Homo sapiens: one gene and its partner. The protein of the gene in region 1 purifies or fractionates together with the protein of each later gene. This does not show direct contact. Each region holds a gene or a part of one and is shown on either strand. Other genes may lie near its edges.

Region 1 (7,040 bases):
TAAAATATCACTTTTTGTTGTTGACATAATAGTAATAGCTACTATTTCATGAGGTCTTGCAAGATGCCATGGAATTTTAAAATATTGTTTCTCTTTTTCTTAATCATCCTGAAAAGAATTTTGTAGCCCCATTTTGTAGCTGGAGAAATTGAGGCTCAGAAAGGTTAAGTAACTGTCTCACAATCACACAAGTAATTGGGCTGTTAGAATCCAAACTCAGGTCTGGTCTGTGCTCTTTCTATTGCTTTTCCACTGTACTGTTCCGAACCCTTTAAGGGAAAATTTGGAAGACTGGTTGCAAGCAAGAACCTAGAGCTTTGATTATGTCCTAGATTAGCACCTAGTAATGTCTGTGGCCTAACATGTTTGTTCCTCAACCTTGAGTTTCGTAATGTTTCTTAATCACATTACACAGTGTTATGTCCTTTGCAGAGAACCCTTGTTTCAGAATTACTAAAAATCTTTTGGTTAATTGATCAAAGTATATGTGTTTTCCTTTCTCTGATTGCCAGTAATCCTCTAAATCCCCATTAACACACTTCAACTCTGTGATTGGAAGGTGGAAAACAGCAGCTTTATTTACAATGCAATTAAAATACATCTGAGTAAATAAGGCTCTTTTGTGTACCCAGCTGAGCTCGGTCTCCAGGCACCTTAGGTTCCACCCTTTAAGGGGGTATCAGTGCCTCAGACCATCTGTACCTAGCTGTCAGGCTGGTGATTAGTTTGAGTACATCTTTTTTTGGTTGGAAGTAGGAAGAAAAGAGATTAACTCCTCTCTTGCCCTCTGATTATTCCATCCTGTTTTTGGCAGTTGTGATCCTGCTGATGGAAGAGAGGTATGTACTCTTTTAGGTGTAACCCCACTGATCCTAACACACCATCTTGCTGTGGAAACTTCCAGACATTCAAGAGGAAGGTGGATGAGAGAGGCCTGCTCTTGCCACAAGTCAGTTTCCCTGTCCTCTTAGGTTCCTCTCCTCTCCATTTCCTGTCACACCTAATCCCTTTCATTTTTTCTCACTGACCTCATCTGAGATAGATGAACCACTAGAAAGCAGGGTGGAGGCCCCAGCCTGGGCTGTGGAATGCTGTTTTGATCTCCTTTCCCTCTCCAGAGGCTTCCCTGATGCTTCCTGATAACAACTTGGCAAGGTGCTGCAATGTAATTAAGTTGCTCGTGCTCAGGGTTTGTCTTAATATCCATCTAGACTGGAGTGAGTCCTTGTAGCAGTCTTGCTGTACATACTTTTGGAGTAAAGTTAGGATAACAGGCACAGGGGAGTGTTCAGGAAAGATAAAATGTGATGTGCCAAATATCTCTTGGTATGTTCTTGGGGACATGCAGATTGGAAACGAGAGTTCTTGACCTTGCTCCAGTTTTCAAATCACTGGATGTTGAGCATTAGATTAAAAGCAACTTTAAAAGAATTAGTAATTAAAAATTCGAGTATCCTAAAGTTTGGAAATTCTCAGGTAAGGTCCCAACACCAATGCCAAGGTCTGCCTGATAACAAAGCAGGTGTTTCACTTGTGACTTTCCTTTGCTAATATACATTTATTTATTTATTTATTTATTTATTCAAAATTTTTATTCTACCATCACATAAAAAGATGTTCAAGGCATTTACTAATTAAAAAATTCAGCCTTTGCCCTGATAGTAATTAGTGAAGTCTGCTTATTCCATAGTACTGTGTCCTGATGGGATGGTAGGATATTGACTATGATACAAATCCACAAATGGTAATGCTTTAAGAGTAGTGAGGGGAAGCTATTGATTGCTCTCCACGCTCCGTAGGTATCTCGTGATTTCAGAAAAGCTTGAGGAGATTAAGTCTTTCCGGGAGCTGACCTGCCTGGATCTTTCCTGTTGCAAGCTTGGAGATGAGCATGAACTTCTAGAACATCTCACCAATGAAGCCCTGTCTAGGTACTGACCTGTCACCACTTGCAGATGAATTGTTTCAGTATTGTTTTAAAGGCTGATCCAACAGGATTATCTTCAGGAATGCTGATTACTTCCCATTCTTATGTTGATTTGCTTTTTTTTCCTAAAACATTTTCAATCTCCATTTACTTGGTATAAGCAATATAGATTAGACAACCCTTAGAAAGTCAGTCAGTTGACTCAAGTCAGTTAGTTGACTCTTTTTTTCTAAGTAACTTTTATTTTAATATGTAATACTTGAAGCTACGTAGGTTAAAAAGTGGTTTTGCCCCTTATTTATTTATTTTTATTTTTATTTTTTTTGGAGACAAAAGTTTCGTTTTTGCCACCCAGGCTGGAGTGCAATGGCACGATCTCAGCTCACCGCAACCTCCACCTCCCAGGTTCAAGCAATTCTCCTGCGTCAGCCTCCCAAGTAGCTGGGATTACAGGCATGCACCACCACGCCCAGCTAATTTTGTATTTTTAGTAGAGACGGGGTTTCTCCGTGTTGGTCAGGCTGGTCTCGAGGTCCTGACCTCAGGTGATCCTCCCGCCTCAGCCTCCCAAAGTGCTGGGATTACAGGCGTCAGCCACTGCGCCTGGCCCTATTTATTTATTTCTTTAGACGGAGTCTTGCTCTTGTTGTCCAGGCTGGAGTGCAGTGGCGTGATCTTGGCCCACTGCAACCTCCACCTCCAGGTTCAAGCTATTCTCATGCCTCAGCCTCCTGATAGCTGGGATTATAGGCGCCCCCCACCACGCCGGCTAATTTTTGTACTTTTAGTAGAGACGGGGGTTTTGCCATGTTGGCCAGGTTGGTCTCGAACTTCTGACCTCAGGTGATCCACCCACCTTGGGTTTTGCCCTTTATTTATCCAGTCCTAGTTTATTCTAGCAAGGGATGAGACATTATACCATAGTCAACAATCATTATCGTTTGCTACTTTAACTATCAATGAGCTACAATTATAAAGAAAATGAACTATTAAAGACAGCCAAAGAAATTCTTTTCAGGAGTCATGATTTAAAGAAATGGCCCAGTTCATACCATTCACAAATAGTCTGACTGATCTCAGGTTATTCTGGCCAGCAAAGAGGAGGACAGATGGATCCCTCTGTGGTTTTATAAACACCCAGAAGAACAACAGCATTACAAACCTAGGTCTAACCTACTACCTGAGGCCTGCTTCTGACAGTGACACCTACCTACTGCCCCATAAAAAGATGCTGTTGTGTGAGGCTAGCCAGCATCAAGGCTCAGATTTCTTATGTGAAAACGGAGCATATTAATATACCAATTCCAGCTTAGCATCAGATGGATTGGATTATGGGTATACCTTATTAACCCAAACTGAAAATCTAGATTGATAAAGCTGGTTAAATTTAGAGGATTGTTTGCTTTGCAAAAATAATTCTCATAGGAGTTCTTTAGCAGACTTTCCTGACATAGTTAGAATGTTTTTGATTTTCACACCATTTGTCAGAAAAGCAGCTTTTGTTTTAAAGTATATTTATCCCCTAGTGGAAGTCCATTTACCTCATTCAACAATATACCTTTAGTGCCCTCTGCCCTCTGAAATTAGTACTGCATGACACTAAATTAACTCTCACTTGGTAACTGAAATGGCACCAAAAAATCTTTTTTTTTTTTTTTTTGTTAGGCAGGGTCATGTTCTGTCACCTAGGCTGGAGTGCAGTGGTGCAATCATAGCTCACTGCAGCTTTGAAATCCTTGGTTGAAGCCATCTTCCTGCCTCAGCCTCCCAAGTAGCTGGGACCACAGGCACACAGCACCTTGGCTAGCTAATTTTTTAAAATTTCTTGCAGGGATGGGGTCTCTAACTCCTGGGCCCAAGTGATCCTCCAGCCTCAGTCTTCCAAAGTGCTGACATTACAAGCATGAGCCACCATGCCCAGCCCAAAAGAGCTTAACTTTGTTAAATGCATTGGGTATGAAATAGCAAGAGGTAGAGGATATGTTATATTTTTAAATGAAAATGTTGAAAGCATGTTTTTATACCTAGATTGTCTCAAACTCTCTTTGAGTAATTTATGTATGTACTTTGTTTCCCTAGTGTAACTCAGCTCCACCTGAAGGATAATTGTTTATCTGATGCTGGGGTGCGGAAGATGACAGCACCAGTTCGAGTGATGAAAAGAGGCCTTGAGAATCTAACATTATTAGACTTATCATGTAAGTTTTCTTCGAAATTATAGATTATTTTAATGTTGGAAGAATGGCCTTAGAGATCATGTAGTTCTTCCTCTTCATTTTAGAGGTGAGAAAGGAAAGGTGACTTTCCTCGGTGCCATAGAAACTTGGTGGCAGAACAGGATTGAGGCCAAAGACTCTTGACTCCTGGCCAACTGATTTTTCTAGCACATACCACCTCTTTAGGGTAGGAAAAACCCTTACACATTCATCCATGCCACTCGCTGTGTGCAAACAGAGACACCTTTCATCATATTCATTGCATACTTAAAGGACATTTGACTCATCTTTATTTTCCTTGAGTCTCTGATCCTTGGTGTCTGTCAGCTAGGTCCTTTTTTATCAGTGTTTGCCTGATGAAAAGCTGGATGAACGGATAATTTACTCAGATTAACCAGATATTGACTCCAATGGTAAGAGGTTGACAGAGATCATTTACAATTTAACCGAGCATCCATTGACTCTATGGCAGGACAGTATGATGCCAAAAGAATAGAAAGAGCAGTGGTTTGAGGTCTGAGGACCCTTCTTGGTCTACCACTTTTACTACCAGTTATATACCTTCAGACCAGTTATTTAACCACTTTGAGCATTGGTTTTGGCCTTTGTAAAATGAGGATAATAATGAATGTCCTGGCTGGGCGCGGTGGCTCACGCCTGTAATCCCAGCACTTTGGGAGGCCGAGGCGGGCAGATCACGAGGTCAGGAGATCAAGACCATCCTGGCTAACACAGTGAAACCCCGTCTCTACTAAAAAGATACAAAAAATCAGCTGGGCGTGGTGGCCGGCACCTGTAGTCCCAGCTACTCGGGAGGCTGAGGCAGGAGAATGGCGTGAATCCGGGAGGCGGAGCTTGCAAGTGAGCCAAGATTGCGTCACTCACTCCAGCCTGGGTGACAGAGCAAGACTCTGTCTCAAAAAAAAAAAAGAAATAATGAATGTCCTCCCTACCTCCCAGGGAAGTGTATTCATTCAACAAATATTTTTTGAGCATCTACAATGTGCCAGGCACTACGCTTATGGCCTTGAGGACTCAATGCTAAGTGTAGTACTCTCTGACGTGAGAAAGTAATATATAAGAAAGGATTCTGAAAATAATGCAAGTTGGTAAGAGTGGTGATAGTATCTGTGTCTAAGTTCCCTTGAATATCTTTTTAAAATAAATAAATGCTTTTACTTTGGAGGTGAAATGGCCATGAATAAAGTATGATAAACCATTGTAATACATGTTTATGTATGTTTTCATATGGTTCCAAATTAAACCCTTTGGGATAACTACCTGGTTCATTTATTTTTCTGCTCACCCCCAACTCCTAGAAAGTAAGAGCTGTAAAGGATCTTTAGGGATCATTGAGTGTGGCTCTTTTATATTACAAATAGTAAAGATCAGACCTCTGTATTTAATTTACTTTGAAAAGTTTGCCAACTCAAATGTTTTATAGTTTATCATTGCCCGGACGTTTTTCTGAGCTTATTTTTGGTTGTCATTTTAACAGCATTTATATTGTGACAGAATGCTACGTTGTTTTTGACATCTAGGTAACCCTGAGATCACAGATGCAGGCATTGGATACCTCTTTTCTTTTAGGAAACTAAACTGCTTAGATATCTCTGGGACAGGGCTCAAGGTAAGACTTTTGGTTCCTTCTCTCATTTTTCTAGACTCAACAATTTGATATTTTGCCTGTGCTAATTGGTATTTAGAAAGGGCTGGTATTTATGATGGTCTTTATTTACTACTGAAAACAAGTAAGAATTAACCAAATGTATTTGCATTTCTGATCTGTCTCTGCCTCACTAGGACATCAAAACCGTCAAGCACAAGCTCCAGACCCACATAGGCCTTGTTCACTCCAAAGTGCCTTTGAAGGAATTTGATCATAGTAACTGCAAGACAGAGGGCTGGGCTGACCAGGTACTCCAGATTTTTCTTCCTTGCGGTTGATGCAGCTTTTCATCTTAATTCCAAGTGTCTTATCCAACACATTGAATAAACAGTAATCCACTTGGTAGTCCTTGGTTAAATTGTCATCTTCATGTCAAATTGGAGACACTGATGGGCTATAACTGGCCCACGTGCTTAAAGAATTGGCGCCAGACCTTATATCTCATGCTCTGGTCACTAGGTTGTGCCTTATCTTTACTGGACCTAGGAGAAAATGTCATCTTACAGATGACTCAGAAAATAAGTGAATTCTGGCTTGCTACACAAAAAAGCAGTCTGACCCAACTTCAGAAGGACAGATTCTCTTAGTAGTGTGTATATACAGGAGAGAGAATAAACTCCGGTGTCATGCAAATAAAGATTCAAATATGATTCTTCTCTTTGTTTTGGGAAAGTTTCTTACCTCCCACAGCCTTAGTGAGGAGGTGTCTTTCTTGTCCTTCTCTCACTGAGTCTTAACAGTGAGAGAACTTTACTTTGACTTCCTTTTGTCTTGATGGTCTTTCTTCACTTGGTAGAGTACAGACTTAAGTGAGATTCAGAGTCTTCTATGTAAGTTGGAAGTGTGAAAGTAACCAAGTAGGACAGCACAAGTAGATGCCACCTTCCCTGTGGCTGGGGCCTTTCTCCCTTAGATGCTTTTAACCAATGTTTCTTGGTGGAGGCCTAGAGGACCCACCAAACTGTCCTGGATCCCCTCTTAGCTCCAAGCCATAATGCAGGATGGTAGAACTATCCACCTGCTGGATTGTAGCGTCACCTCTCCACAGGTAAGCAGGGAGACTGCTGAGTCGTGTTTCAGAAGCACACTGAGCTTGGTCCAGAACATGCATGATGAAATAATTATCATGGTGCATTGCCAGACAAAGTTTCTAGTGCTGTATGAGACCTAGATGCATCCAGTGGATGTGGGACAGGTGTGGGATGGTCTTACAAAGGCTTGCTGCAGT
Region 2 (8,689 bases), on another chromosome or scaffold:
TCACCTTTTATCTAGAAGCCCGTATTGCCTTTCTCATAGTAAAATAAATGAAATGAATTCATATTTAAAAGATGTTTATGAAAGAAAAGTATCAATTCCTACCTCCATTATCTTTTAGATGTAGTGCTATCTTGGTATCATCTGGAAGAGAAATTCAAAGTTACTATAACAGAAAAGGATTGATTTCAAAGGAGCATAAATCTTATGACTAGTAATTGTCTACTAACTGCCTTGGTCGGAACATGACTAGATTTTGATAATTTATTGTGGTAATTTCTAGTGCAATGAGAGCAAGTCCTTGCTTTACATGATGTAGTTCTAAAATTTCCTACAGAGATTGTAATGTCAAGATTTTGGTAACATCTTGAATGATCCTTAAGTTCTACAAGAAAAGTAAGCAGTAATAATTAAAAGTTAAAATACAGCTATTTTTAATTCTCTAAAATCACTTATTGTAATTAGAACCTATAGTTATGACCTTATTTATTCATTTTAAAAAATCAAGATCAAGGAAAATCCAAATTCATTGTGACAGTTAAGATTTGTCAATATTTACAAATTTAACTCCAAAAGTTAAATGTTTACCCATTGCTAGAAAAGATGACCAAAATTCTATATAAAGAGATCTTATCCTGACTGAACAAAATGTAGGATATGCTTTTTTATTTTACTGGTTATGTTTCACTCTAAAGGGTAGGGTTTAAATTATAGGAATATTTTCGTGGACTTTAATATAATAATCCAAAATAATATGGATTAAAAGATAATGTTGCTTTTAAAAGCAGTAAAATGCACTTAGCAGCTGCTTTCCACCCCACTTTATTCCAGTTCACCTTATAATATCAAATTAAATTCCAATTAAAAGTTCCATATTTAATTTTTTATTCAAGCCAAAGAAAGTGAGGCTTATAACAATAAACAAGTAAGACCCATTTATCCCCCTCAAACCTGATTCGTGGCCAGTCTTATGTTTCTGCCCTCTCCCTCCTGGTGGTATCATTCAGAATAGAAAATTATCGTATGTTGGGTAATACACTTTCTTCCTCCTGAGCTGTGCCCAAGCATTAACACTCTCTAGTATTTCTGCCTACCTTAGAAGAGGAAATAGTTGTTTTCAAGGACAATTTCTATGACACATACAGTGTTTCTGTATAGGTTATAGACCAATATATTTTATTGACTGCATTCTGGAAAACATTAGAATTATATATTAATAGAATTATTTATTGTTCAGAATCCAGAATCAACGGACATTTTATATGCATTTTGCCTTTCTAACCTGTGATTGTGAAGTTGGATTTGCTTAGTACAAAATTTAGCCACACAGGAAGAAATCTGTATTTCTTTTCTAGGAAGGAGAGGACAAGAAGCCAGAATCAATGGTAAAAGCTATGTCTTAAAAAAAGGCACAGTGCATTAAAAGAATCCCAGCATTTACTTTTAGTTCATAATAATTTTGTCTTTTTCCCCTTTGGAAATCCCTTAGAAATCCAGTTTGCCAAAGAATAACTTTAGAGAGACCTAGAGAGTAGGAGCTATTCCAGTACATGTCAACACAGTGATTTTTCCTTCCTTCAGGGAAAAAAAAAAAAAAAAAAAAAAAAAAAAGCAAACTATCTCTTGGGTACCTTCTGTAGGGAGGCTGGTGGGAAACTGAGAAGTCACTGCTCTTCTGGTGGTAGTTAGGACCCTGAACTGGGTGGTTGTCGCTCCTACGGTTGTGGTGGTTCGAGAAGAAGTTTCCACTGGTTCTGTATTCTCACACATCTTCTCTTTTGACTAGTAAGAGAAAAGAAAAGGAAAACAAATGGAGTGATCACAAATCTATTTTTAGAACTTACATCAAAGAAGCTGGGCTGTAAAGCACAAAAGCCTCTCATATCAAGACAAGGAATAAATTACTTTTGTACAAGACTATATTAATGATTTTGCTAATTTATGAAGTTTATAAAATAGGAAAGAGAAAAAGATGGATGGAACAAGGCATTTCCCTTTTTAGATATTTAGGTTTCATCATTTACTGCTGTTAAGCTTTCATATTACTGTTTACCTTGCCCTAAATTTTACATTGGTATATTTATAAAAGACACACTGTCAAAAGGGAAAATTTATACTAGAAGAAAAACAGGTGCATAAAGATAAGGTTTAAAACATACTCAGGTTTGTGGAGAAAAAGTGCATTCCTTTCGTATCAAACTGACAATGCTAAATCCGAAATATTTGCTAACTTCCCCATACTACTTCATTGTTTCAAAAATCATCTGTCACAAGTTGAATGAATGTCTAAAATTTTGTTTTCCTTTATGAAATATTCAAAACCACATAAGCAAAGGATTGAACAGAACTCTTGTAATCACTCAGCCTATTTTCCTCCTTAGCAGAGCTATATTGAAAACATCAGGAAATGAGACATAGTGAATTTTTTATTTTTAATTTGTGAAAACAAATCCTACAACCTTCACTGGTAACAACCTCCAACATCCAAACTTTTATAGCTTAGAAGTTGGTGTTTCTATCCACCTTTTGTGCCGCAGTGGACTCCCTCTCTCAGGTGGGCCTTGAGTAGAAAATAACTATTCTGGACATGAGTGGTTCTCATCCCACATTTTAAAATTATTGTTAAATAAATATCATTCTTAAACTTCTCTCATCATTAGTGGAGCGCTAGGTGCCTTTCCCCTTGTTAATGCAGACTTCCTGAGACAGCCTCCTTTTCATTAATAGGATATGAAACAGGTTTATTCTCCACTTCAAGTCTAAACATACTAGGGTCTCATTTAATTCCCCAAATTCCAGTTCCTGCACCTCTGAGCCCCATTAATCTAATTATTTCCTTTCAGATACCACTTTAGTTGTCATCCCCACACCCTGGACTATATCTGTAGTGGAAAATGTTTTAGATCTGAAATCATAAGCTCAGTTATCCTTTTTCCATCTATCCCTGTACCTGCGAACTCCAATTCTTCTTATTCTTTGACTACTTAGAAAGCCTAAGAAAATGATTTTGTTTTTAAGTTTCTTTTTCCCCCATTACTTCAACCACTCATTTCAGTAGCTTCAAGCATCTTGCTCTATTTTTTTATTTTTTTTTTTTTTTAGTTTTTTTTTCTACAACACCTTTAAAGAAAAGATCTGCCTTTTCCCTGCCTGCTCCAAAGCCAGGCACAGCTGGAGAATAATCACACAGACCCGCCATGGGGGCTCCACAAACATCTCCTGCATCCTTAGCAGGGCCGTGCATACCACTTGGCAGCATTGCTGTGTCTTGCTAATCACCTCTCCCATTATGCTCAGTATGAATTTCAAGCTCTCTCCACTTTACCTAAAACTGCAATCCCATCATGATTCTCCCGGTTTTACTCCTTGGGTTCACCTTCCATTTCCTTGATAAATAGGCATGATCAGCAAGATTTCTTTAAATTTCTTAGTGAATCAGCATACTTACTTGACTCTGGGCTGACCTATTCTTTCCTTCTGTGATAATGGATGGGGACCTTTCCTTATAGCCATCCTTTCAACCTATTTCTACCTATGTCCTAGCTCAACTCAGCCCACCTTCACAGGTATTGTGAATTTGCTTAGGTGATCATAGTCCTTTCTCTACAATATTTGCCACCCCTAATTCTCTGCTGGCTTCTTATCAACAACACTTAAAGGTACACAAGCATGCCTAATCTTATTTTGCAAACCCAAATTCCAGTTTGCAAAGGGAGGCAGTCCCAGAAGAGGGACTGCCTCCCTCTTCTCCCCAATGCATCCTGACATTATACTGCTTTCCCTCCATTCATACGCAGTCATATTTCCAGAGAGATCAGTCTGCCTTGGTCTTCTCAGACTCCCAGCTTTCCCTTTTATGACAATCTTGCTCTTACCTAATCCAACTGAGTTGAAATTTCTCGTACCAATGTTTCTAAATATCTCCTTAGCTAAATATCCAACATCTTCCATGGTGTCCTACTGACACCTCATCAGCCTATGGTGCAGATGTCCACTCCCCTGTCTTGGTTTCTGTGACACACCCTCTCCTCAATGTTCTGACACCTCCCTCACAACTCCATCTCAATTTCCTTTTATTTATGTCAATTCCTTAAGTGTTGGGGTGGTTCTTATGGATCATTCTTGCTCTGTCACTTCATTCTATGCATTATCTTTTGCAATCTCTTCTACACCCATGACTGCAATGAACATCTTTATGTTGATTATTCATAAATCTATATTTCCAGTCCACATTCCTCTTTTGGATTTCAGGCCCAAAAAGTCATCTATTGACCAGGTGTCTGCATGTGAATGTCACACACATCTCAAACTCAAGGAGTATAGAATGGAACTTGCCATATATTATTCTCTCTTTGTGTTTCTACTGTCAATGAACAGGACCTAGTATTCCGTAAACAGGATCTAATAATGTTCAGTAAACACCCTACGTTTAAGGTAAAATCCTAGGCTCAGATTGCTTTTGGCAGTAACGGCAGACTAAGGAACTAAATAGCCCTCCTATAACAAAACAAGTAGATTCTGAATAAAACTTGAATTTTAAAGCCTTAGGATTTGCAGGAGGTAAAGAATATCCCAATGGTGCCTTTCCATTGTTTATTCCCCTCCCCACTCAAAAAATAAAACAAAGCAAAAGCTATGTGCTATAAAGACAGTAGGAGCTGTATACATTAAGGGAAGTTAAAAAAGCAGAATTTGCCCTGAGGAAAAAAATCCAAAATCAATATCGCTCTAAAGAGAACAAGCCTTGCAGCAGTAGTAGACAGGGGAGAAAAATCTGAACTTCTCCTCCTCACATTAGGGCAGAGACTTATGGTAGCCTGAAAATCCTGAGGATCCCATCATCAAATCTTCTTTGGGGGAAAACATCACCTATTTAGGTCTTAGAATAGGATCAGACAAATATACACTAAAAAAGAAAAAAAAATAGCTGTCTGAGAAAGAATCAGCAAAAACAATGACCACACTATTTAGATCACCAAAATTTTAGATAATGGGATCATCCAATATGGAATATACAAAAATCATACACGGAATATTTAAAATCATAAAAGATAAAATTGAGAAATGAACGGTTCACATGAAACTATAAAATACTTGGCAGATGTAATAAGTGTCAAATTTAATTTTAGATATGAAAAATGTTTGTTGGAATTTCTACTTCAGTGAGTAGATTACATAGAATATTAAACAAGATGAAGGGAGAGTTAATAAACCGGTAAATACATCTGAAGAAATTGCTCCAAATACAGCACAGAGTAATAAGGAAAGAGATTACATATAATAGAGGTTTAAAAATATGAGGAAAAGATGAAAATGGCAAGCTTTCAAAGAAGTCAGAAGGTGAAAATAAAGAGAGTGGAGAAGTATAGCTGAAGAGTACATTTATCAAGCTTGACACCCAACCAACAGGAAAACACACATTTTTCTTGAACACACATAGACCCTTTGTACAAAATGCCCATGTACTTGTTCATGAAAAATTTCCAATCAACTTTAAAGATCATAACATGTTCTCTGATGATGACTCAATTAGTCTAGAAGTCAATAGTAAAAAAGGTAAATTTTAAAAGCCTCTGTAATTAGGAAATGTGATCTAATTCATAATTTAATGTATTTCCAATAAAATGTTAGTAAGATGTATTGATAGATGGATTACAGATCTCGACAAGGTGAGTTTAATATTTATATGAAGGACAAAAGCCCTAAAATACCCAAACACTTGTGAAGAAGAAAAAGTAAGGAGATTTGTCCTGTATATAGTAAGATTTCTTATAAAACAATAGAAATTAATACAGTGGGACACTGATCTAAGTACTGACAGAGCTTTAGAAGAGGAGAGCCCAGAAAATATACATAAAACAGGTGACTTTGCAAGATATTGCCAAAAGAAAGGATTAGTTAACAAATGGTGCTTGAAATTTGGCTATCCATCAAGAAAAAAAACCCCACGAAACTGAATCTCTACCTTATATAATACATAAAAACCAATTCCAAATGGAATAGATTTTGACGTGTAAGACAAAGCTTTAAAATATTCAGAAAAAAATACACAAAAATAACACCTAGATGGAATTTGGTAGGAAAATTCTTCTAAAAGAAGATGCACAGGCATATAAAACTCATCATAAAAATAAAAGATTCATACATTTGACAGATTAAATTGATAATTAATGTTAGTGAAATAAAATCATAGAGAAAATGAAAAGATAAACCAAATTTGGGAGAAAAAATATACATCTGAATTACATTCTCAATCTTTACATATATGGAGATATTCATTTTCAACATTTTATATTGAGGTAACTGATTATATGAAAGAAATGATTGTCTCAAAACACAACTATGGCTTTGTCAATAGATACTCTTTGGAACTACGTTATTAGATAAGTGAGGTGAGACGGATGAGCACACACTGCTGTCATTCCCTAAATGAAATGCCAAAAGGTTGGTTATAGCTACACTGGCAATACTGCATTTAAAGTTCAAGAATGTTTTTAAAAATGTATTGCTCAAGATCTTTATGAAACATGCCCCCCAAAAATGAATTTTTAAAAAGTCTCTAAGTAACCATTGAACAAATAGTTTTTAAAACAGCATTTTGGCATGGCTTGCTTTGCTAAACTTTTGTAATTGTTAGCAGTTTTAATTCAAAATTGATACCCCAAAACTTAATGAAGGGAGAAGAAGTAAATGCTTTTCTTCATAAACTTTATAGGATATCTTTATATGATCTTGAAATGATAGTATAAATGCGAGTCACTGCAAAGCTTTTAAACGGGTTAAAATTGTTTCTGGTATCCAATTGCTTACACGACTTCACTGCATCCTTGTCTCTATCATGTTTCCCTCAGAGTTAACATTATACCATCTCTCTATGCCAACTAATGTTATACAATTTCTCATTTATTACAGCACATCAATTTGCTGCAGTCTTCCACCCTCCACAATACCACTGGTCTTGCTGTTTGAATTACAAAGAGGAACAATGGTTTCGTACATCCTAGAAAAATAGCAAGCATTTAAGAGAACTCCTCTACAGATTCCAATCCTGGCCCTACTATTCCCTAGCCATTTACCTGACTCTCCAAGAACCCACACTTCACCCCTCCCCACAAGCTCCCCTCACTCCTCCCCTTTCTCTCCTTGGTAATATGGGGGTAGTGACAGTGCAGGCACTGTTCTTCATAGAATGAATATGACAATGAAATGAGATAATACATATAAATAGTTAAGCCCCATGTCTGCATCTATTAGGGGTTGTAGCAAGTTGCTACAATGTAATGAAAATGTTATCTAATTTAACAAAAATAGCCAGCTGTTATCGAACCCCTAATATTTGCAGACATTGGGCTTATAGAAGGATTCTTCTCCTTTCATTAAGTTTTAGGGCATAAATTTTGAATAAAAATTATTAACAGTTAAAACACATGTATATGACAGCTTGGTCCCAGGATTCTGTCACAATAAAGCATGTGTACCTCTTCAGGGCATCCACTGTCCACCCAGTCCTGCCGATGACGATCAAATCCACTGGAACATCTTCAAAGAAGACCACAATGCAGTTCAGAAAAGGAAGGATAGGGTGCAGGGTGGTGGACAGAAATTAAAAGTAAAAGATTAGTAGGTAGTTCATTCTCACATTTTCAGTTTAGCATAACATTAACTCTTCTATAGAACTCGCAACTGGAGAAGCAGGGAAATATTTAGAGGGTTGCTAAATAATCACTCATTCCTTAGGATGTCACTGTTAGGATCGCACATGGCAACCAAATCACTGTTAAAGCAAACTGCACTGTACGGAATACCTAGATCCCTGCACAAAGATAAGACCAATCGCTCTTCTATGAAGTGGATTTTCTTTTACCTTGTATTTTTTTTCTCATCATTAAAACAAATAAATACACACTTTTTTTGCAAATATTGTATTTCATGATTTCAGGTTCATTCATTCATTCATTTTACTCATTCATTCAAGACCCACCATCACACAAACTCTTTCCCTTTTGTGCAGTAAAATGTTAACTTGGCAGTTGTGGGGTTTTCAGACCCTGCATGTTCCAAAAAAAAGACTGGCCCTTGACTTGCTCTTGAGAAGTAACCTCTAAACTCCTGGACTATCCTGCCTATTAAGAGTGTCTACCTCGGGTCTTGAGCCATGCAGATAGTTTATGCTGACAATTTGATTTATTGTGAATATGTGACTTCATTTACTTGGGACCCTGGGCCATGCTGTAACAGTTTGACCCTGGGGAGAGCTGACGACTGGAAGATAAGATTAGTCACAAGGGCATTCTATCCTGATGAATGAACCCTTAATAAAAACCCTGGAGACCAAGCTTGGGTGAGCTTCCTTGATTAGCAGTACTTGTTGTGTATTATTGCACATTGTTATTGGGGAAATTAAGTATCATCTGTGCAATTCCACTGGGAGAAGACAACTGGCAACTTGCACTGGTCTCTCCTGGATTCCACTCTACGTGCATTTCACCTTTGCTGATTTTAACTCATCTCTTTTTCCTGTGGCAACCTTGAGTATAACAGCTTTTCTGAGTTCTGCGAGTCTTTCTAGTGAATCATGGAACCCGAGTATCTTCTTGGGGACACCCAGTTGCACTAGAAATAGGTCATGTCTAAAATATCTAATTTAGCAAGCATTGTGTTAATTAGACTTTGTTCACTCATACTGTCTTCC

The links.
Region 2: the proteins of LRRC42 (region 1) and PLXDC2 purify together in Homo sapiens (affinity purification with mass spectrometry; 3 studies listed by BioGRID and IntAct, with this or other methods). This does not show direct contact.

Annotation. Positions count from the first base shown.
Region 1 is NC_000001.11:53,956,350-53,963,389, forward strand, and holds part of LRRC42 (leucine-rich repeat-containing protein 42), read left to right. Parts: intron 1-1,799; coding exon 1,800-1,931; intron 1,932-4,006; coding exon 4,007-4,125; intron 4,126-5,684; coding exon 5,685-5,773; intron 5,774-5,946; coding exon 5,947-6,060; intron 6,061-7,040.
Region 2 is NC_000010.11:20,210,516-20,219,204, reverse strand, and holds part of PLXDC2 (plexin domain-containing protein 2 isoform 1 precursor), read right to left. Parts: intron 7,537-8,689; coding exon 7,476-7,536; intron 1,780-7,475; coding exon 1,629-1,779; intron 142-1,628; coding exon 103-141; intron 1-102. UniProt on the Homo sapiens protein: May play a role in tumor angiogenesis.